7 separate regions of the Homo sapiens genome follow, and all the other regions are reported to be linked to region 2. Evidence: microRNA targets listed by miRTarBase, many of them from high-throughput screens and not tested one by one. Region 2 holds a microRNA gene; each other region holds the end of a gene's coding sequence.
What was found. The annotated mature microRNA hsa-miR-331-3p reads GCCCCUGGGCCUAUCCUAGAA and lies in region 2 at 2,047-2,067, opposite strand. An mRNA with a match to its seed (bases 2 to 7 or 8) in the 3' UTR can be bound and repressed. Matches are read on the target gene's strand: a 7mer-m8 pairs with bases 2 to 8, a 7mer-A1 pairs with bases 2 to 7 and ends in A, and an 8mer does both.

Region 1: the mRNA of EXOC6B is a reported target of hsa-miR-331-3p. Seed matches in the 3' UTR shown: 7mer-A1 at 439-445.
Region 3: miRTarBase lists FBXL5 as a target of hsa-miR-331-3p. The part of its 3' UTR that is shown has no 7-base or 8-base seed match.
Region 4: the mRNA of ANKRD13D is a reported target of hsa-miR-331-3p. Seed matches in the 3' UTR shown: 7mer-A1 at 414-420.
Region 5: the mRNA of TOM1 is a reported target of hsa-miR-331-3p. Seed matches in the 3' UTR shown: 7mer-A1 at 2,113-2,119.
Region 6: the mRNA of ZNF629 is a reported target of hsa-miR-331-3p. Seed matches in the 3' UTR shown: 7mer-m8 at 2,635-2,641.
Region 7: miRTarBase lists TNPO2 as a target of hsa-miR-331-3p. The part of its 3' UTR that is shown has no 7-base or 8-base seed match.

The regions. Positions count from the first base shown.
Region 1 is chr2:72,176,483-72,179,562 of GRCh38, reverse strand. It overlaps EXOC6B (exocyst complex component 6B), which reads left to right. Exons shown (of 22, transcript NM_015189.3): 22 at 102-3,080. The coding sequence ends at 228. Among named protein-coding and RNA genes, the nearest start is that of CYP26B1, 30 kb to the right of the region's middle.
Region 2 is chr12:95,307,467-95,310,546 of GRCh38, reverse strand. It overlaps MIR331 (microRNA 331), which reads right to left and starts at 2,127; the gene lies at 2,034-2,127. It overlaps MIR3685 (microRNA 3685), which reads right to left and starts at 624; the gene lies at 563-624.
Region 3 is chr4:15,603,010-15,606,089 of GRCh38, reverse strand. It overlaps FBXL5 (F-box and leucine rich repeat protein 5), which reads left to right. Exons shown (of 11, transcript NM_012161.4): 11 at 291-1,709. The coding sequence ends at 367. Among named protein-coding and RNA genes, the nearest start is that of FBXL5, 51 kb to the left of the region's middle.
Region 4 is chr11:67,302,032-67,305,111 of GRCh38, forward strand. It overlaps ANKRD13D (ankyrin repeat domain 13D), which reads left to right. Exons shown (of 15, transcript NM_207354.3): 15 at 88-453. The coding sequence ends at 301. SSH3 (slingshot protein phosphatase 3) reads left to right here and starts at 1,499. Exons shown (of 14, transcript NM_017857.4): 1 at 1,499-1,660; 2 at 2,087-2,124; 3 at 2,742-2,976. The coding sequence starts at 1,595. RefSeq lists enhancers at 649-1,166, 1,167-1,686.
Region 5 is chr22:35,346,854-35,349,933 of GRCh38, reverse strand. It overlaps TOM1 (target of myb1 membrane trafficking protein), which reads right to left. Exons shown (of 15, transcript NM_005488.3): 14 at 2,965-3,004; 15 at 1,961-2,879. The coding sequence ends at 2,725. Among named protein-coding and RNA genes, the nearest start is that of MIR6069, 12 kb to the right of the region's middle. RefSeq lists enhancers at 1-84, 85-617.
Region 6 is chr16:30,779,063-30,782,142 of GRCh38, forward strand. ZNF629 (zinc finger protein 629) reads right to left here. Exons shown (of 3, transcript NM_001080417.3): 3 at 1-3,080. The coding sequence ends at 2,656. Among named protein-coding and RNA genes, the nearest start is that of ZNF629, 6.6 kb to the right of the region's middle.
Region 7 is chr19:12,698,899-12,701,978 of GRCh38, reverse strand. TNPO2 (transportin 2) reads left to right here. Exons shown (of 26, transcript NM_001382241.1): 23 at 128-227; 24 at 307-381; 25 at 526-653; 26 at 736-2,778. The coding sequence ends at 633. Among named protein-coding and RNA genes, the nearest start is that of SNORD135, 3.2 kb to the left of the region's middle. RefSeq lists enhancers at 1-364, 1-841.

The DNA.
Region 1 (3,080 bases), not on the chromosome of region 2:
GGGTAGTGGTTAAGATGCATTGCCATCCTGCTTCCTGCAGGTTCTCCTTCCACCATTGTTTCCTCAAACATGTTGCCCTCTTTCTTTCCTTCTCTGTTTAGGATGAAGGATACTAGCCGCAAGAACAACATGTTTGCACAGTTTCGGAAAAATGAGCGAGACAAGCAGAAACTCATTGACACCGTGGCCAAGCAGCTCCGAGGACTCATCAGCAGCCACCACTCATGAAGGGTGACCCCGGACCCACAGAGGCGACCTGCTGCAGCCTCTGTGTCAGTCTGGGGTCCAGCCCCAGCTGACCCTGCATTTGTGCATTCTTCTTCAAAGAGAGCATATGTATTTTTTTATTAACCCCTGTGCAGTATTCACATAACATTTCCCTATAGTAAAAGAGGCACAAGAATAAGCAAGTACATGAGATGTTGCTAGGCTGGGACTCAGGGGAAGTTATTACTACACTATCTGTGTTATCTTAGAGATGGTGGTATCATCAATTCCACAGTGATGAACCACCTTTCATCCATGGCTCTAAAGCTTAGGTCTGGGGCTTAGGAACCATAAAAAGTGGGTATCTGGCGCTGGGAGGTAGAGTGAGTAAGCAAAAGGATACTAAAATATGTCCTGTTCACTCTTGGATGCCCATTCACCACATAGATGAGGCTGATTCTTCTCAATACAAGGAAAGGGCATGGCAAACATTACTATTTAGTACACTAAGGGCAGCTCTGGAGGGTCATCTCCTCAGTCTGCTGACTTTCACTGGCTTGTGAACAAGCATGGCATATGGCAAGATGACAGCTTCATTCCAATCCCCCAAGAATGGCGGTTTCTTTAGCCTGATCTAACCCCAGGCTTTTATTGCAATTTTTTCTAGGGCAGGATACAGCTAAGTAGACAGCAGTAATAATTGGATCCCATGTTTAACTGCATATTGCCCCAGCTCTAGGAGTGTTGAGTCTCAACTCGAAGAGTTTTTCTGGATCTTGAAAGCCAGTTTTCATGGAATCAGAGACCCAATCCCTTCCCTGTTCATCTCATTTCCTTCACTTACAGTCAGAGCACTTGGTTCAGGACATAAATCAACAGTTACTTCCATAGGCCTTCACAGGGCGTTTCAGACTTAGCCTCCTCCAGTAATGCCATTGAAATAGTTCAGATTTCGGAAGCCTAAAAATGGCCTTTACCTTACCCTTAGGTGTAACCTGAGGATTAGTTGGGATTGTTCCTTTATGTTTTAAAACCAGCTTTTTGGTTATCATCTTTAAGGAAATGTCACCAGCTCTGCACTGTGGGGGCAGCCATGCCTGGACTGGATGCCTCTAGGGATGGAGACATTGTTACCATAAAGTCGACAGAGCCAACCATGGCTTGTGGCTTGTTGCCTCTGGCCCAACTGTCCTTCACTAAATAATATCCTAGATATTATTTTGTTGCTCAAGCCCAAGGTTCCCACCCTCTTTTGAGATCCCCAAAGCCATCTTTGGCCTTGTCTAAGAAAGATTGCCTATAATCCTGTCCTCCAAACTCTAAAGCCTGGAGCAGCTTAGCGTGGAGGCTGCACTCATTGACCCAGATGGACTCCTGAGACTTAACGCAAGGGCTTTGCTATGAGGTCAGTCGGGGGAAACTGTACTTTAAGACACTTCAGAAAGATGCTACTGGCTAGTAGCAGAAAGATGGCTAGTGGCAAGAGTATAATTGTGCATCACCAAACAATGACAAATAAGCCACACAGGCATTTCCAGCTTGGATTGATGGGAGGAGAGACTCATCAAACAGAATTCTTCACTACCTTTGTCAGCTACTGAGTTGCTTCTGGGGAGGGAAGTACTTCCTTGCCCCTCCCCAACCCCCCTACCTCACCATATCCTATCATATCTTGATAGTCATGGGGAAGAGGATGTGCACACAGACATACAAATTTCCTCAAAGCTGGAGAGACCAGGCTACATGTGAGCTCATAGATGCTGCTGAGGCTCATCCTGAGGGCTGGATGGTTGGCCAGGGTTTCAGAATGAGGGTAAGGGATGAGCACTGCCACCCAGAACTTGATAAGCCAAGAGAAGGCAGGAGCCAAAATGGCATCGCCAAGCTCTCATCTTTGTTGAAACAAGTGAGAAACGATTATATTAATCTGAAGTTCTATTGCTTGAGAAGAGTTCAAAACACTTCTCTTTGCTAGTACCCAGTTTGCAGCAAGATCTCTTCAGCTTTAAGTGCTGAGAGACTTTGAAGTGGAAATGGAGAGATGTGTAAGCATGGCACAGTGTTTGTCTTTTTAGAGGATCATCATTGCTGGTCTGGTCTCAAACCTCTGCCTTGGAAGAACTGTGCTATACAGGAAAAAGTGAACAAGGTGGAGGAATAGGGGTTATTCTGCACAGAAGTCCCATGAAAGGAAAAGCTTATTCAAGCTCAAGACATAAAGATGGACCCTTTGATATATCTTCTCTCCATTCTTAGTCTGCCTTCACCTTATCTAACAAAAAACAACATGCAGCTACTGAGTTGTATGTAGAGACATACTCTTGGTGGGCCAGGGAAGGTAAAAACAGGGACCAGCAATGTCAAGTTTTTGAACTAGAAAAGTGGGATGTTTTTAGTTTTGTCTATAACCTGTAGCTGGGCCAACCCTTGAGAGGACTTGTGCAAAGCATGTGTGCCCAGACCCATCAGACTCCTCAGATATGGCCTCAAATACCTAGAGATGTAGAAGTACCGTGGAGGGCCTCAATAAGAGGGCAAGCACACAGATGGCTAGAAGCCTGTATGGCTTCTGGTCAGGATGAACCCTTGGCCAAGTTCTTGAGGAAACCAGGTCTATATTCCTGAAGGGACAGTTCAGTTTGGGACTCTATTAGGTTTCAGTAGTAATATAGGCTGCTTGCATCATTTTAACATTCATAGGGAAAATCTCTTTGAGCAGGCTATAAATGAAGCTGTTGCAGGTAGGGAAGAACAGGACCTGAAAATGGGAACCAGGAAGTGAGATCCTGTTGGCAAAGGGAATGTAGAGCTTCCAGGGTGCATTGCCCACTGTTCTCATTGCATACCAGTCCTCCAAGTCAGTCTAGCCTTAC
Region 2 (3,080 bases):
CATAATTGACAAAAATTCCATATGATTAAATACCGAAAATAAAGTACTGTGTTAAAAAATTATAGATATTTGCACACTCATGTTTACAGCAGCATTATTCACAATAGCCAAGAGATGGAGGCAACCCAAACGTCCACCAACAGATGAATGGATAAAAAAATGTGGTAAATACATGCAGTGGAATATTATTCAGCCTTAAAATGGCAGGAAATCCTATCACATTCTACAATATGGATGAACCTTGAGGACATTATGTTAAGTGAAATATGTCAGCTACAAAAGGACAAATCCTGTATGATTCCATTTATATGAGGTATCTAAAGTAGTGAAATTCATAGAGAAAAGTAGAATGATGGTTGCCAAGGCTGTGGGGAAGGGGAAAATGGGAGTTGTTTAATGGGTATAGAGTCCCAGATTTGCAAGATGAAAAAATTCTGAAGATCTGTTTCACACCAATGTGACTGGACTTAATCTCATTGAACTATACACATAAAAATGGTTAAGATAGTAAAATTTATATGTGTTTTTAAAAATCACAATTTAAAAGATGCAAAAAAAGAGAGTACTTTGCCCATCCCCCCAAAGACTATAATCTCAAGTCTTCAGGTAGGGTAGGAAATGTACTACCCTAATATATAAAACACAATTAATCAAAAAGTAAAAATGAAAATACCTCTGAAAGAATATTCTCAAATGATATTTTTTAAAAATCACAGTTTAACACTCAACTAAGTGTCTGGATTGAATGTAGACTTCAAAAACTTACTACGTAAACAAGCTATAACTTTTTAACTCTTCACAAATTCCTATTTTCAGTGTTCATAATGAACAAGGTTTAAAAAAGTGGAAAGGCTCCCAAAATACTGAGAACATATATGTATATAAATCAAGGATGGGTTCACTCATTTCAAGCTATGTCAAGAAGTCTATGGGATGAAGCATGTCTGTTGTGATGGATATAGTACAGAACTAACTCCACGGCTGAGTTCTTCAGAGTGAGCCTCTGTAGGCTCATAGTCCTATTTTAAAGGAATAACCTATTGACCCAATTTGCTGGTGTTATAAGCTTGGAGGAATAGCACAATTTCAAGTTCCTTTCACAGGTGGAGTTTCTGATTAGTCTGTGGTTATTTGAAACATGGTCTACACCTACTGCAGAAGCCAGCATTATTAAAAGCATACATTTTCATTGTGCACCATAACTTTTGGATTTGGGGTCGTTTCATACTTTTTCAGAAATACTGTCTTCTAAATTAAACAGAAAAACATCTATGTGAATATAGCGATGCAACAGTTGTGATATGAGACCATGTGATGGATCAACTAGGTCAGAATATTTGTAAAATCCAGAGTGGCAAGGAATAAAAATAGAGAAACTTACTAAAAATCTTCTACAAAATAGTGATGTAAAATGTGACGTATTAACCAATTTCTACTGTGTCATTCTAGCTTGTTTTCATTAACCATAGCAGAACTTCTAAAAGTGAGCTCTAAAATGTGGCAAATTTGATAATAAATTAAGGAAAAAGTCATTAGTCTCCAAAAACAAGAATTGAAAATCATTTGGCACTGAAGCCAGATGGCAAAGACTAAATGCTCTTCAGAAATTATGAACAATTATTCAGTTACATGAGACTGACATAACAGTGTCAAGTAGAAAAACATTTAAGAAAACAGAAACCATTAAATTTGGGGGAGAGTTTAATTTGGAGGAAGAAGTTGATTTTGGGGTTTTTTAGGGCTAAGTTGCTTCAGCTAAAAATATAGAACTGATAATAAACAAGAATAGCTCTCTTCACTGGCAATAATATCTGTATGGAATTTCTATTGCGAGAAATTACTATAATGCCAAAGGCTGGGAAGACTTTGTTACCCAATGTCATCCCTCTAATTTTAGAAGGATTAACCAACCAATTTTTGCTAAAATGTAGGCACACATACCAAAAAATGTGAATCTTGGTGAATATAGGATGTCTGGTAGGCCTCAGGTTATCTTCAGTCTTCACACTCTTGATGTTCCAGGAATGATGCGCGAGCTTAGGTTGGTTCTAGGATAGGCCCAGGGGCCTGGTTTGATCTGGGATCCCTGGGACCATACCTAGAACAAACCCAAACAAAACCAAACTCCTTGGGAGTGCTTTCAGCTCAGGTAGACTTCTGGGCTTTTCACCCATATGGACCTCCACGACTGTACCAGGACCATATACCAACCTTTAAGGGATGGGAGTGACATTTCTGGAGCCTTCTGTACGTTGTCAGCTGATAGTACTGTGCCTGAGTAAGCATTATTTAAGTCATGGTATGAACAGAAGGTAACAGATTGGTGCAATAAAAGTGCAGAAAATACTTTGATTTAGAAATGAAGTTAATTTCCTTAAGAATTTACTTAAGGAAGGGGAAAAGGATATGCTTTGTTTAGGATATTATAAAAGAGTAAACTTATAAAAGACATGCTTTAGTTTTAGAAAAATTCTTCAATAATATTCATTTGTAGGTAGCTAAGCTTTAGGAAATGATATAAAACTGAAAAACATAAAGCCTAAAACAGTAAAATTATCCTTTAAGAAAATCTTAGGATATAAATAGGAGAGGAAATATATATATCCATAGCCATATCTCACAGAATATACTGATTTTAAAGGATAATGCAGTCAAGAGAATATGCAGCTTAAATACTGTACTATTGCAATAATATGTTGCTAAATGAAGTTCAATACATAGAGATAAAACTAATTTCATTGCTGACAAGCTAAAATACATTAAAATATATACCATAAAAAATACTATATGCACTTTAATTTATCACACATTTCATTTTCCTTCTTTTTTTTTTTTTTTTTTTTTTTGAGACAGAGTTTCACTCTTGTTGCCCAGGCTGGAGTGCATTGGCACAATCTCGGCTCACCAAAACCTCCGACTCCCAGGTTCAAGCGATTCTCCTGCCTCAGCCTCCTGAGTAGCTGGGATTACAGGCATGAACCACCATATCCGGCTAATTTTGTATTTTTAGTAGAGACGGGGTTTCTCCATGTTGGTCAGGCGGTTCTTGAACTCCCGACCTCAGGTGATCCGCCCACCTG
Region 3 (3,080 bases), not on the chromosome of region 2:
GTGGATTGTCTCATTTCCATTTTGGATTTTTATATTGTAAGTTGTTGCTAAAAATTATTTTTTTCCCTTCTTCCACTTACCTTTTGGACCATGAAGGATATATTAATTAAAGTCAAGCTGCTATTGAGTTTTGTGTCTGAATAATTTCTTATACACTTATCATGAGATTTACTTCTATCATATAAGTACTGCTAGTAAAACCAATGAATGTTTAACTCCTTCATAAGCAAAATTATTTTTATGTGATCTCTAAGAAATTCCTCCTTTCACATTTTTCTGTTTTCATACAGGTCCTCATGCTGATACCGCCAGTGGATGCCAGAATTTGCAGTGTGGTTTTCGAGCCTGCTGCCGCTCTGGCGAATGACCCTTGACTTCTGATCTTTGTCTACTTCATTTAGCTGAGCAGGCTTTCTTTCATGCACTTTACTCATAGCACATTTCTTGTGTTAACCATCCCTTTTTGAGCGTGACTTGTTTTGGCCCCATTTCTTACAACTTCAGAAATCTTAATTTACCAGTGAATTGTAATGTTGTTTCTCTTGCAAATTATACTTTTGGTTTAGAAAGGGATTAGGTCTTTTCAAAAGGGTGAGAACAGTCTTACATTTTTCTTTTAAATGAAATGCTTTAAAGAATGTTGGTAATGCCATGTCATTTAAAGTATTTCATAGATAATTTTGAGTTTTAAAGTCCATGGAGGTGATTGGTTCTCTTTACACATTAACACTGTACCAAGCTTTGCAGATCTTTTCCGACACACATGTCTGAAGACTTATTTTCAAAGACAGCACATTTTTGGAAACTAATCTCTTTTCCGTAATATTTCCTTTATTTCAATGATTCTCAGAAGGCCAATTCAAACAAACCCACATTTAAGGTTCTTTAGGATTATAGAATAAATTGGCTTCTGAGTGTTAGCTCAGTGAGCTAGGAAAGCACCAATCGATATTTGTTTCCTTTAGGGATACTTTGTTCTCACCACTGTCCCTATGTCATCAAATTTGGGAGAGATTTTTTAAAATACCACAATCATTTGAAGAAATGTATAAATAAAATCTACTTTGAGGACTTTACCAAGTAATACTGTTGTGTTGTGATTTTTATTATAAATCTCAATCCAGGTTTACTTTAGTATAGAATAGGACTACATACTTTGTCTTTGGACCTCCCATGAACTTATTACCCTGACAAATAGTTTTAGACAGATACTGAATTTTATTGAGCTGAATTTTCTTTTTGAAATGAGTTATTCAGTAGTCAAAATTTGAATCCGTAAGTATATCTACTTTGCTTTGTTAAAACATCATGAGAGTGGAGGCCTGCCACCCAGAAAGGCACATACTAGTGCCTTTTAGTACAATTTTATGTCATGTAGAAGAAAATGGCAATGTTCCTCCTATTGATACAGATACAGGCATATGTCATCTTATTGCGTTTTGCTTTATTGCACTTTGCAAATAATGCATTTTTTACAAATGGAAGGTTTATGGCAACTCTGCGTTGAGCCAGTCTATTGGTGCCATGTTTCCAATAAAACTTCTCCTTTCATGTCTCGTATATTGTGATAATTCTTGGAGTATTTCATAGTTTTTCACTATTATTAAATCTGTTGTGGTGATCTGTGGCCAGTGATTGTTGTTACTATTGTAATTGCTTTGGAATGCCATGAACTGTGCCCTAATAAGACAGAGAACTTAATTGATAAATATTATGTATGTTCTGATTGCTCCACTGACCAGTGGTTCCTGTCTCTCTCCTCCTCAGACCTCCCTCTTCCTAGAGACACAACAATATTGAAATTAGGCCCCAGCTTATAACCTTGCAGTGGACTTTAAGTGTTGAAGTGAAAGGAAGAGTCATGTCTCTCACTTTAAGTGAAAAGCTAGAAATGATTAGGCTTAGTGAGCAAGGCATGTCGAAAACTTAGGCCCAAATCTACGCTTCTTGTGCCATACAGCAAAGTTGTGAATGCAACAGGAAAGTTCTTGAAGGAAATTAAAAGTGCTACTCCAGTGAACACCCAATGATAAGAAAGTGAAACAGCTTTATTACTGATATGGAGAAAGTTTTAGTGGTCTGGATAAATGAAACTAGCCATAAAATTCCCTTAAGCCAAAGCCTAATTCAGAGTAAGACCCTAACTCTCTTCAATTACATGAAGGCTGAGAGAAGTGAGGAAGCTTCAGAAAAGGTTGAAGCTAGCAGGGGTTGATTCATGAGGTTTAAGGAAAGAAACCTTCTCTATAACATAAAAATAGAAGGTGAGGTAGCAAGTGCTAATATAGAAGCTGCAGCAAGTTATTCAGAAGATCTAGCTAAGGTCATTGATTTGAAAGTGGCTACATTAAATATCAGATTTTCAGTGTGTAGACAAAACAGCCTTCTATTGGAAGAAGATGCCATCTAAATCTTTAATAGCTAGAGAGGAGAAATCAATGCCTGGCTTAAAAGGGCAGGCGGACTCTTAATGTTAGAGATTGATGCAGCTAGTGACTATGTTGAAGAGAATGCTCATTTGCCATTCTGAAAAACCTAAGGCCCTTAAGAATTATTGCTAAGTCTACTCTGTGCTCTGTAAATGGAACAACAAAGTCAGTATGATAGTATATCTGTGTACAGCATGGTTTGCTGAATATTTTAGGCCCACTGTTGAGACCTGCTCAAAAAATTTCTTTCAAAACGTTACTGCTTATTGACAAGGCTCCTGGTCACCCAAGAGCTCTGGTGGAGATGTACAAGGAGATTAATGTTTTTATGCCTGTTAACATCTATTCTGCAGCTCCATGCAGAATTACTCCATGGATCAAGGAATAATTCTGACTTTCAAGTCTTATTAAGAAATACATTTTGTATGGCTATAGTTGCCATAGATAGTGATTCCTCTGATGGATCAGGGCAAAGTAAATTGAAAATATTCTGGAAAGGATTCAATTAGAAGGATTCACCATTCCAGGTGCCATTAAGAATATTCGTGATTCATTGGAGGAGGTCAGAATATCAGCATTAACAAGAGATTGGATGAAGTTGATTCCAACTCTCAATGGATGTCTTTGTAGGGTTCCAGACTTTAGTGGAGG
Region 4 (3,080 bases), not on the chromosome of region 2:
CTCCAAAGCCGGTCCCCAGCCCCTCGGCTTCTGCCCCAGCCTTGGCGCTCACTGGCCTGTTCTTCCCTCCCCTGCCCTGCCTGGAAGGGCCCTCCAGGAAAGCCTGCAGCTGTCCACAGAGCCCAGGGGCCCAGGATCCCCTCCCAGGACACCCCCAGCCCCCGGTCCACCCAGCTTTGAAGAGCAGCTGCGCCTGGCCCTGGAGTTGTCTTCACGGGAGCAGGAGGAGCGGGAGCGGCGCGGGCAGCAGGAGGAGGAGGACTTACAGCGGATCCTGCAGCTGTCACTCACTGAGCACTGAGCCATAGCCCCGGGAGGGCTGGCCAGGCCACTCCCTGCCCGCTTTTGTAATTTATTTATTTATAAACTCTCTGCTGCTGAGCTTGGGGCCTGGAGCCCCAGGAATGAGCAGGCAGGGGAGACTGAGATGGAAATAAAGAGACTGTCGCAGCAGGGCTGCTCTGCTCACTGGGCTGGAGCGGTGGGGACCCTGAAGGTGGGGCGCTGTGGAGAGGCACTGTGGATGGCGGCCTCAGACCTGGGCTTGAATCCTGGTCATGGTCCCCTTAGCCTATCTGAGCCTCAGTTTCTTCAGTTGTAAAATGAGGAGACCACCCCCCACCCTCCGCCCCTCAGGGCTGAAAGGAGCTGGCGAGAGTCACGTGTCCTTACCAAGCAGGCGTCCTGTGAAAGTCAGATCCCCTGTGCCCTGTCCCACCTGCTGGGGACCCGGTTCGTCCTGCCACCCAGCCTAGTCTTCTGGAAACCGGCCCACGTGCCTGCTGGGGAGGAAAAGCCTGGGTCCCCAGGCACCATTCACCTCCAGCTGGGAAGAGCCCCGACGCCGACCCCTGCAGCCAAGCCCAGGCCCTGGCCCTGACTGCGGCTTGTTCTCTGCGGGTGGGTTTGCGCAAGTCACTTCCGCCTGCGTAGCTGGAAGCCCTGCCCTGCTCGCCTCCGAGGTGGACCTGAGAGCCCCTCATGGGCTTCCTGGGTTATTTGTAAACCCCAGGCCGTTTTCCCCGGAAGCCTGTCTTCCAGTGGTTCCTGCGGAGTGGGAACGAGAAGGCCGACCAGCAGGGAGAAATGTTTGGGGTGGGGGCCCTTGGCCGAGGGCGCGCCGTGCCTGATCCTCTCTAGACCTGTCCCCCACCTCCCCACCTCAGCTCTGCCTCCCTAGGACCCGCCTCTGCAGGGCACAGGACGCTGGAGGCCCAGAACAGCTCAGGTGCTCCCGCTGGGCCGGCCCGGGCCGGGCGCTTCCTGGGAGGGGGACCAAACTCCCGGCCTTCAGCTCTTGCCCTCCGGGTCTCCGGGCTCCGCACCTGCGCCCGCCCCCGGCCTCGCCCCTGACCTGTGCCCAGGGGCTGGGCGGGCCGAACAGCGGAGACCGGAGGGGCGGGGCCCGGCCGCCCTGAGAAGCTCCGCGGGCCCGGCTGGGCGAGTGTCTGGCCCTTTAAGGGCCGCCCCCGAGGAGGTGCCAGGCCCGGGTGGCGCCGTCCGTCCTTCCTGGTCCTGCGGGTCCAGGACTGTCCGCGGGGTTGAGGGAAGGGGCCGTGCCCGGTGCCAGCCCAGGTGCTCGCGGCCTGGCTCCATGGCCCTGGTCACAGTGAGCCGTTCGCCCCCGGGCAGCGGCGCCTCCACGCCCGTGGGGCCCTGGGTGAGTGTGGTCCGGCCGTGGTGCCGCCCACGCAGTTGCTGCCCCGGCTTGGGAGCGCGTCCTGCCCGCCAGCGGGCTCCTCTCGAACGGGGACATGAGGAGGGGGCCCCGGGGCTCGGGCTGGAGGGCGCTGGGGGCCTCGAGGGTCTCTGGTACTGGCGCCGGGGCACAATCCAGAGCCCTGCGCGCCGCCCGGGCTGCGGAGGCCCCGATCTGAGCGCGCCCCCCGCCACACTCGGCGCCCACCCAGCCGACCTGGCCTTGGGCCGGGGCTCCACGGGGCCTCCCGGTGGGGCGTGGACTGGGGTGGGAAGACGATTGGCATCTGGCGCCTTTTCTGGCCTCCCCCAACTCTAGAATTCCTGAGAGAGGGGAGGGGACAGCCCTCCCCGCCCTCACCCTGCCCTGGGGCTGCTCTCTCCGCAGGACCAGGCGGTCCAGCGAAGGAGTCGACTCCAGCGAAGGTGAGCGCCACCTCCCCCACGCAGACACTTCCGTCTGCCCCGGGCCTGGCCACGGCCGTCCTGGGCTCCAGCTGCAGGGACAGAAAGCTCCCCGGAGGACGCGCAGCGAAGCCCACTGCCAAATTTGTGGGGCAGCGTTCCCGGTGGGGCCGGCTGGTGGGCTCGCGGTAGGGCGGCCTTTGCCTTCACCCTCCCCCTGGTCAGCTGGGGCTTCCTCATCCACTGCCCTGGGCTTTGGCTCAGGTGGTGGCCACGGGCCGAACGGCAGGAGGGCATGATGGGCCTGAGGACTCCTGGGTCCCCGACCATGTTCCCAGCAGCACTTGAGTTAAACAGGTGGGAGGGGAAAAGGAGCAGCCCCCTCTCCCCACAGATGAGCTAGAGTAGAGGGGCTGAGAGCTTGGAAGCCCCCAAGACTGGTTCTCAGCAATATTGCCAAGGGGCCGAGGGGTTAGAAATGCAGATGCTCAGGCCTCCACTCTAGACCTATCGACCGCGTGGGGGCCCATGAATCCGTGTAGACAAGGGCTGCAGGTGAATGTGATGCATGCTAGACTTTGAGAGCCCCTACCCTAAGGGGAATGAGGAGCCATGACAGTTGCCCACTGCCCTGCCAGGCAGAGCTTTGCGGTGCTCCGTGGGGCTGTCCTGGGACTGCAGGATGGAGGGGACAATGATGATGCAGCAGAGGCCAGTTCTGAGCCAACAGAGAAGGCCCCGAGTGAGGAGGAGCTCCACGGGGACCAGACAGACTTCGGGCAAGGATCCCAGAGTCCCCAGAAGCAGGAGGAGCAGAGGCAGCACCTGCACCTCATGGTACAGCTGCTGAGGCCGCAGGATGACATCCGCCTGGTGAGGGCCCATGTGGAGCTCCGGGGGGTGGGGGGAAGAGACACGCCTGAGGGCAGAATGGAGCCCTGTGTATGTGTCTGCTTGGGGAGCAATGGTGTGAGGGC
Region 5 (3,080 bases), not on the chromosome of region 2:
GGCCTGCAGCCTCAGACAGAGCCTGCTGCCAGGGAACCCAGCCTGACTGCACTGATGAATTCCCGCCAGCGCCCCCCCCCCCAGCCCCCATGCAGCCCCAGCAGCCTTCTCTCTGAAGGAGGCCTTCAGGCAGCCTGGAACTGTTCCAGCCAGCCAAGCCGAGACCTCTGCAGGGGCCACCTCCTGCCTGGCATTCAAGGCCCTTCATGGCCCAGCCCACCCCATCTTACCTCAGCAGCCTTAGGCCGTCCTCACAGAGAGCCTCCTGGCCCTGGGCGTCCCGTCCCATCTTCTTCTTTTCACAGCGTGAAACAATGATTGAGTTTATGTCTGTCTTTCTCGTCCCTTTCCCTCCCACGTGACCCCACAGGGCTGGCACCTGGCCGCTTCACTTCTGTCTGGCGGGCACCTAGCGCTATGCTGTGTGCAGCTGGCTCCCAGGGGATGCACCCACAGGGAGGAATGAACAACCTGGCAGTTTTCACCCTTAGCACCTGAGGCCCTCCCAGCCCTGGGGGCCTTCTGTGGAAGTTTCCTTGGGTTTCCCAGCTAACACAGGGGAGAGGAGGCCTTGGCTTTGATCCTTGTAAAATCACAACTCCCCTCTAAGAGGTCCCCAGTTAAGTAGGGAGAGAATGAGGGAAGCAGGCAGTGGGGTGTGGGTGGGGCAGGCAGGTGAGGCAGCAGTGAGGAAGGTTGGGGGTCCCAGTCTTCCATTACTTAGTGTATGACCAGGCAAGTCCCTTCCTCCCTCAGCCTCAGTTTCCCCATTTGTAACTGGTGGCCAACACCATTGACCCCCTGGGGCTGTTGTGAGGTACTGAAAGGGCTGGGCCAGGGTAGGGCACCTGGCAGGAGCTCACAGATGCCCTGGATGTGGCAGAGGGAGCTTGGCCTGGACCATGAGCATCCTGATGGCGGCAGGGCCTCCCCCTCCCCTGCCTGGCACCAGTGTGCCTGCCCCCAGCTGCTTTCCTTGCCCCAACTCCATCTTGAGGGCTGGGCTGGGCCTGGTCTCCTGTATGCCCAGCTCCAGACCATACCTCAGATGGCAGGTGCTGCCTGCCCACTGCCCATGGGAATCAGTGGCTGCTCACACAGACCTCGGCCCTCTCCCAGGAGCCCAGGACCCTGTGGACCCAATTGCTTTGGCCTCACACCGTTCCCCGACCGTGTCCTGGGCCAGGAGGCTCCAACATGCCTCAGCAGTGACTCCCAGGGAGTCTGGCCTAGAGATCCCACACCTGAAAAGGTGGCACCCTAAGACCTGGGGCTCTTGAGCTGCCATGGAGGGAAGAGCTGACCCCCTGCACCTGACCTGGGGCCCAGCGTCTGGAACTGTGTGCCATGTCTTCCCAACTTAGCTTTGGTGCCTGGAAAATGGGGAGGATGCGCTTCTGCATGAGGAAATGCTGGCACATGACAACTGCATGAGCTTCCTCCTCTGAGCTGGGCGGCTCATGGAGTCCTAGTCTCCGCATCTATACATCGAGGACGCTCACTTTGCTTCTCCCAGGCTGTTGTGATGCTACGAGCCAGTGCGTAGCCCCAGGCTGTGCCTGGCACCCAGCCTCGGAAGGCCAGCATCCTCCTGTGGCCTGTGCACCCCACATGCGCACACAGTCCACACAGGTCCCCGCCCTTGTGATTAGTGTGCTCTGTGCAGGGCAGGAGCTGGCCTCATGGAACAGCAGCACGAAGGTGCCTTGAGGAGGGAGGGGTGTCAGCTGGGGAGGGCATGCATCCTCCGGGCAGGGGCGGTGGCTGGAGCCTGCCATGTGAGGTGGGAGGAGGCGGCACCTGCGTAGTGTAGCTGGGTGTTTGCTCCTGTCCTTCCGCCTGCACCATCTACAGATGCTCACCTCTCGGATGGCCCCCAGCCCTGCCCAAAGTAGTCGCTGCCTCTGTGAGGCCAAGAAGTCATTTCTGACCAGGAGACTTGACAATGCTGCTAGCAGGGTGGTTTTCTACCTTTAATTGGGGATACAAAAGGCACCTCTCCCAGTACAAGAGGATCAACCAAGAGGTGAGCCCCAGTGCTGTGGTGCCCGGCCAGAAGGAACAGAGGAAGGATGGAGGGCAAGGCAGCGGAGGGGCAGTGGGGCCCCAGCATCCCCTGAAGCCTCACCTGCAGCCTGGGGCTGATGAGATCTCGCCCACTGCGCGCAGAGTTGCAGCTTCGTACCTGGGCCGCCGCAGCTCCTCAGGGGGCCTCCACACCTCCACACCCTACCCTCAGTGGCCAGCCAAAGCCATGGGGCCCCATGCAGCAGAGCAGGGAAGGGACAAGAGGCTCGGCAGAATTTCCACTGTGGCCAGCCTCCAGCCAGGCCTCGACTGGCAGTGTGGGCTCTGAAGGGCTCCTTGGGGCATGGGCCCGGAGCAGGGTATCACTCAGTGAAGGAGAGTCACACTGGGTCAAGCAGCCAGCCAGCCAGCCAGCCTGTCCTGGGGCCTCCACTTCTCAGCAAAGTCTCATGGTCAGCTGGGGTGGGAAAGGAGGCAGAGCAGCCAGATCCCACTGCAGCGCAGACCTGTCCCCCAGTTCATCCCACTGCCTCCACACCCCCAGCCACAGCTGGGGCAGCTCCGTCTTCAAAGAGGAGGAAAAGGGGGTAACAAGCCACCCCCAAAGCAGCCTTAACACCAGAGGAGGGAGGGAGGTCCCAGCCTAAGGGTGTGAGAGCAGTGGGGACCTGGGCTGCAGGGTGCCAGACCCCACACTCATAAGGCAAACAGCATGTCATCATCTTTCTCCTGGGTCTTCTTCCGGGGCGCTGGGCCAGATGGGGGACCCGGGGGCCCCTCAGCTGAGGGGCTGGAGAGGTTGGGCAATCGGTCCGCGGCTTTGGCCCGTTCTTCCAGGAATTTGTCAAATTCTAGAGGAAGGGGAGAGGGTGAGGGTAGGCCCTGAGGCCAGAGCCCTGGGGAAAGGAGAGGGCGGGCAGGGGCGGGGACTACTACCTTCGCTGGTGACCCCCTTAGGCTCTTCCGCATCATTACCCTGGGAAGGTAGAAGGAAAGGAGGCAGAGGTTAGCCGGGCCCCCAGTACGGTCAGCCTGGGGCAGTGGTGCTGCAG
Region 6 (3,080 bases), not on the chromosome of region 2:
CCAGAGGTATCGAACCCTGCCCCTTTCCTACCGCAAGACGCCTGACCCTACGAACTGTGCGCTCACATCATCCATCCCGTACAAGAGCCAAGCCCCTTAGCCCTCACCCATCCCTACAACATGTGAGCATCCTACTAAATATGCTACACCCTAGTCCGAAACAGGCCTGCGCCGGCCTTCAGTCACACTGCCTGCCTCCCCCCAGACTGGCCTCTGAGCCCCAAAAGCTGCTCCCCAGGCCTCTTCTGGGAACAGATTCCTTAGGCCTGTTTTTGAGAGCATCTGCTTCTGGCTTTGCGAGAGGTTTGTCTTTACAACTTCAGTTTCTGCTACCATCTTGGGGAGGGGGACATCTCCTTAGACTTGGCAGACTTCTCATTCTTACAGGGCACCCCCTTCGTTGGCGTTCTGTTAGGAAGAGACCCACAGGCAGCACCCCCCTCAGTAGTGCTTCCCTTCCTGGCACTTGGATAGGCTGGGGCGTTATGCAGATGGCAACATGGTTCTCCGCACAATCCTGAGGCCTGCCTTCTCCCTCTCCCCAGCAGGCCTGGCGTTTTCCTCCCACAATGTTTGAGATTTTGATCCTTTTAAATGTGAGGGTCATCCTGCTGGGGCCAGGATAGACAAATGGCGAAGGATTTGCATAAAGGTTGTGTGAAACTTTAGGTCATGGAATTAGAGGTCTCTTCCACAGCTTTGCAAAAATCTGGGTCACCCCTCTCTTGAGACGTGACTCCTGACGGGCCCCACAGCTGGCATCTCAGTCCTCTTACTCCAGGACAGCGCATTACTGGGGTTGGCAAGCACTTCCTTTCTGACCCAGCGCTGAGCAGAGTCCTCTCCTTTTGAAGGGGTCTCCAGGATTAGGGAGTGGGAGTCTTGTTACAGATGTTTCATTCAAGAGTTTTCTGTCTTCCACCATCTCATAGGGCAACAGTCTCTCCCCAGCCACATATGCCCAGGCCTGTGAGCAGGCTTGGCTGTTTATGAATGTGTAACTGTGTGGTGTGGGAGGTGAGATGGGCCTGGCAAGGGAGGCTTTCTCATCCTTCTGTTTCCTTCTGAAGGTTTCTGGCTAAGGAGGAGAGGGGAGCCAAGTGAGTGGAATCCATCCCATCCATCTCAAGGCTGAGATTGGGCTGGATCTCACAACCCTGGAGGGCTCCAGGTACCAGGGTGAAGAGGGTGATACGGCCTCTGCGGACTCTTCAGGGACCTGTGGCTCAGTCTGTGGGGTGTCTGGATCCCCACCAGGGAGGAGGGCTGCCTTATCCTGCGGGGCAGCCTTGCTACCAACAAAGATGAATAGCTGAAGTTTAAAATCAAGTTGCTGGCTAATCAAAGCTTTCTAAGAAATTCTGTGGCCCTGATGACTTGGAGAAGGCTGGGGAGGCCCACACGCAGGCCCTAAGTCTCTGAAGGGCTTTATTCTTTGGAGGTCGACTAGCAGCGGTTCTCCCTCTCCACTGAGGACAGAATTTGAGGAAATGAGCTGCCACTGGCGGCAGTTAGATTTCAGGAAAAACCTCCTGAAGGTGAGACCTGAGAATGTGGTGGGAGGCAACCGCCATCCCTGGAGGCCTTGCAGAGTAGAAGTCCCTGGCTGGGCAGGGAGAAAGGGTGGTCCTGCCTGGTGTGGGGAGAACCCTTGCACTCTGAGAGCTGGGACCTGCCTGCTACTTGCAGTTTCGCAAGCTTCCGGAAGCAAGAAGGGGCCTGGAGTTAGCTGGGTTCCATGTGAGCAGTTTCCCCACCTTGGTTTGCTCCCCTCAAAGCAATCTAACAGAAACTGCCCCCTGCTTCCCCCTAATTTTTGTGGTGGTTTCTCAGTATTCTTATACTGACCATGTTTCTGCACCCCAAACTTCAGCCTTTAAAAAGGCTTGCCAATTTGTTTTTTCTTCCCCATTTTGGGGTTTTGATAAGGGATTCCATAGGCCTCTTTCCCTAAAACACACAATGCATCTAACATTGTCCTCAAACCCCAAGGACCCCAGTGCAGTGAGTGGGACCTTTTCTTCCTAGTCTCTGTCTTATCTCCTCTGGGGGCTCCAGAGCTCCTGGTCACTTATTTTTCTCCTATTTTCTTCCTTTTCAGTTCCACCCAGTTCCCACACCACTCCCCCAGCTGAGCATCTTCCTCCATGAGAACTGTCCAGGGCTGCTGGGAGAGAACATTGTGGAACAGTGAGGGAGAGGTGTTTTCTGCATCATCTGAGGGTCGTTACTCCCGGGTCAGTGCCATTGCGGTACTTCCCCGACCCTATAGGATTTTCCTAAGGATTTTGATACAATTTTATAGGGTTGTTCAGAGACATATTGGGACCTCTTCCTACAATTAATAGGGCTTTTATCCACTATGGTTTATAGGGTTTTTCTGCTACAGACTTAAAGGGCTTTTTTTTTTCCTACATATTTATAGGGTTTCTAACCCAACAGTTTTTCTCTACTGCCTTATAAGTGCTTCCCACCAACAATTTTATAGGGTTTCTCATCACTGATGTAAAAGCACTATTTTTTCCCAGGGTTCTTTCTCCTCCACTCCACTACCATCTGATAGGGTTATCCTCCCTTCCCCATGTAATTTTTTTGGGGGAAAAAATCCAGTGTTCCTCTCTGGAGAGAGCGAGGCCCCTGGTCTCCAGACCCATTTCACAGGGAGACACCTGGGTGGCAGCTCCTATGGAGCAGGAGGGCTGCGACTTCTGTGAAGCCGGCTCCACACTCGGGGCACAGATAGGGCTTTTCTTCCACTAGGGTTTTGGGGTTTTGCCCTTCCCCATGGCTGCTGCTCTCTGTGGGGGTAGGGGTCTCGCCCTCACCTTCCTGATCTGTGGACAGGGTGACTGCCTCTGGAGGGGGGTCCTCGGGATTGGGGGGTTTTTCCTGGGTGTGGGTTTCTTGGTGCCGGGTGAGGGCCACGCGGTCGAGGAAGGAGGCCCTGCAATCTGAGCAGCGGTAGGGTCTGGCCCCCAGGGGGCTCCTGAGATGCTCCAGGAGGACGGAAGAGCTCTTCCCCAGCTCTGGACTCTTCTGGGAGCTCTTCCCGCCTGCATGGACTTTCTGGTGCAGCAGCA
Region 7 (3,080 bases), not on the chromosome of region 2:
ACTCCCTGCCCTGCCCCACCCCCACAGATGCATGTCCCAGGCCCACTCACTGATCCCCAGTGACCCAGCCCTCCACAGATGCATGCCCAGCCTGCCCTCTGACCTCCAGCTGCTCACCTTCCCACAGGTGCACGTCCCTCAGGAACATCAGGGACAACGAGGAGAAGGACTCAGCCTTCCGCGGCATCTGCATGATGATCGGTGTCAACCCGGGGGGCGTTGTGCAGGTTGGGGCAGCTGGGCTCTGAGGGCAGGCGCGGGCGCTGGGCTCGGGCGGCCCCTCACCTGGGATCCGTCACGTTTCAGGACTTTATTTTCTTCTGCGATGCTGTAGCCTCCTGGGTGAGCCCGAAGGATGACCTTCGGGACATGTTTTATAAGGTGAGGCTCTGTCTGGGCCCTGATCTAGTTCCGGGAGCAGGCAGGGGTGAGACCATCTGGTAACAATGGGGCCTGGGGATGGGGGAAGAGGCGCACTCCCCTTGTTCTGCCCCTGCCTACCCCTCACCACCACCCTCCCCACAGATTCTCCACGGCTTCAAAGACCAAGTTGGGGAAGATAACTGGCAGCAGTTCTCTGAGCAATTCCCGCCGCTGCTCAAGGAGAGGCTGGCGGCTTTCTATGGGGTCTAGGTGATCATGGAGACTGCCAGGTAAGGAGACTGCAGCTGGCAAGTCAGCACTGTCTTGGGGGCCGAAAGGTCCCAGGCCATGACCTTCCTCCTCCCCCTGCAGGTTTCTGTCTGCGTCGTCGTCGGAGGGATTACTGGGGAGTGCGCTGCATCCGGAAGTCGCTGTGCCCTGGTTGAGGGGGGTTAGGGAGGAGTGAGTGGGACTCAAATCCAGATGCCTTCCCCGTCCGTCCGTCCGTCCGTCCATCCGTCCACTTGCCCTCCTGGCAGGTGGGTGGGGCCACCATGCTCATCCTACAAACGGGGAGGTGGGGGGGACTTCTGGTGGGCAAGGGCCCCTGGGCTCTAATAGGGTCATCTCTGGCAGCCCACTTGGGCCAGCTACGTGGGAGGGAGGAATTACACAGCTGACCGAATCCGGCTTCGGATGAGGTGAGGGAGGAGCAGGTCAGGAGGGGGGCCCTCGTAGGGACGCGTACACTCACACGGACACACATGGCCACACGCATGTGCGGGTGCCATAACCGGCGAGGCTGGGCCAGCCGCTCCACCATTTCCCCGACTGCATGGAGACAGTAGAATTAGTGAACCCCTGAGTTAACCCGTAAGGCCTTCCGTGTAACCTGCATCTAGAGTTTAAGAAGCTTCTGCTGTTTTGCCGGAATTGGCGGTGACTGGGGAGGGCTGGGTGGGTGGGGGGCCTCAGGCGGGATCTCGGGGCGGGGGGAGGAGGATGGTGACCTTGGGAGTCGCCCTGTCAGCACGCACATGCTTGGGACCCACTCCACACACTCCCTGCCAGCTTTGTTGCAGCCTCAGCTGGTGGTGTCTCCGTCCTTATCCTAGCCTAGCTCGCAGGGTGAGAACCACTGGAGTGGCTGGGGCTGGCCAGAGGTCACCGTTTCTCCTTCCTGTGTGCTCCAGTGGCTTTTGAAGACACTGGGTTGGGACCTTTTTCCTGAAGAGAGCTGGGTGTAGCCAGAGCTACTGGCACCTACCCCGAGCATCTCTCTCTGTAAGCAGCTTCAGGGGCAGTCCGTTTCTCTGTGCTTCTGAAACCCCCTTCTCACGTTTCAGGCCCCAGTTTTAACTCAAGGCCTGGGGCAGGGGCGTTTAATTGATGATGACAGAGGACACAGGTTTTTGCCAGCAAAAAGGAAAACCAAGGCTTGGTGGAAGGGAAAGGTGGTGTGTCCCCTGTTCCCTATTCCATCTCCCTGGGACTTCCTGCTCATCATAGTACCCAGTGAGCCCAGAGATCCTACTAGACTGGGTCAGCAATTCTAGAGAACCTTCCGGAATAGTCTGGGAACATGGTCAAGGTGGAAGGGGCTCCCCTAGAGAGGGTGGGGGTGTAGTTACTTCCCAGTTGGCCAGAAAACTGGGCCTTGCAGACCCCCTTAGCATTTTTTCCCTTTTTTTCCTTCCCTGCTTTCTACTTCTTTGGGGAGCCCCTTGTGTTTTGGAGTCTGACTGGAGTCTCGCATCCTGGGGCCTGCTCCATCCATCCCTCCTGGGCGCCAGACCCTCCATCCAAGCCCTGTGTCTTTCCATAGTCAGGGTCAGGCCCTGCATCTATTCCAAGGGGCACTCAGTACACATTCCATAAATTAGCTGGGTGTCCCTGCACGCCCACCCCATGAAACTCGAGCAGGTCTCTGGAAGCCATTTGTTAAAAAAAAAAAAAAAAGTTTTAAAAATACCTTTTAATTTTCTGGTAATTCCAGTTCTTTGAAGCATCCTCTGCTGGGTCTTGGGGTGTGTGGATGGATTGGCTGTCTGATGGGATTGGTAACCCCTCGCTACTCAAGATGGGGGGATACAAACACCTTCAGGGAAGGGGAGCCTGGTTCTTCTCGTTTTCCTTTTTTTTTTTTTTTTTAAAAAAAAACTATTTAATTTTTTAATTTATTTTTGGTTGTTTTTTGCACAATGAAGTTTCAGCTTCTCAACCTTCTCCCCTACCCAGGGCTGTGGACCCAGACTGGCCTTGAGCCACAGTCCCTCTTTCCCTCCTCACCCTCTTCCCCCTGCGGGCTCCCGGGTCTGTCCATTTGTTACTGTGCTGTGCTGGGGATTGGCGCCGAGGTGGCGTGAGATTCCACTTGTGTAGAACTTTGTTGAGTAAAGATCAGTTTCTTGTGAACTCCTTAGTCTGTGGCTTCCTGTGTCCTTGGCTTTGGTAGTGAAGAAATGTCGGGGGCACCGGGGATACTTGAGAGTGGGAAGATAGACGAATGTGAAAGATGGAAGATTAAATTTGTAACATATATGAAATGTGCAGCTCATTCTCTGGGACTTCAGCTCACTAAGGGTGAGCCATTAGTGTCACAGCCCAGGTTCAAGATGCCCCTCTGCCGTACTCTAAACTGAGTGGTAAGGGGTGAGGCCTTGCCGCACTCTTATCATCAGCTGACCCTGGGTCAAGGTTTTCATAGAAGGTTCAGC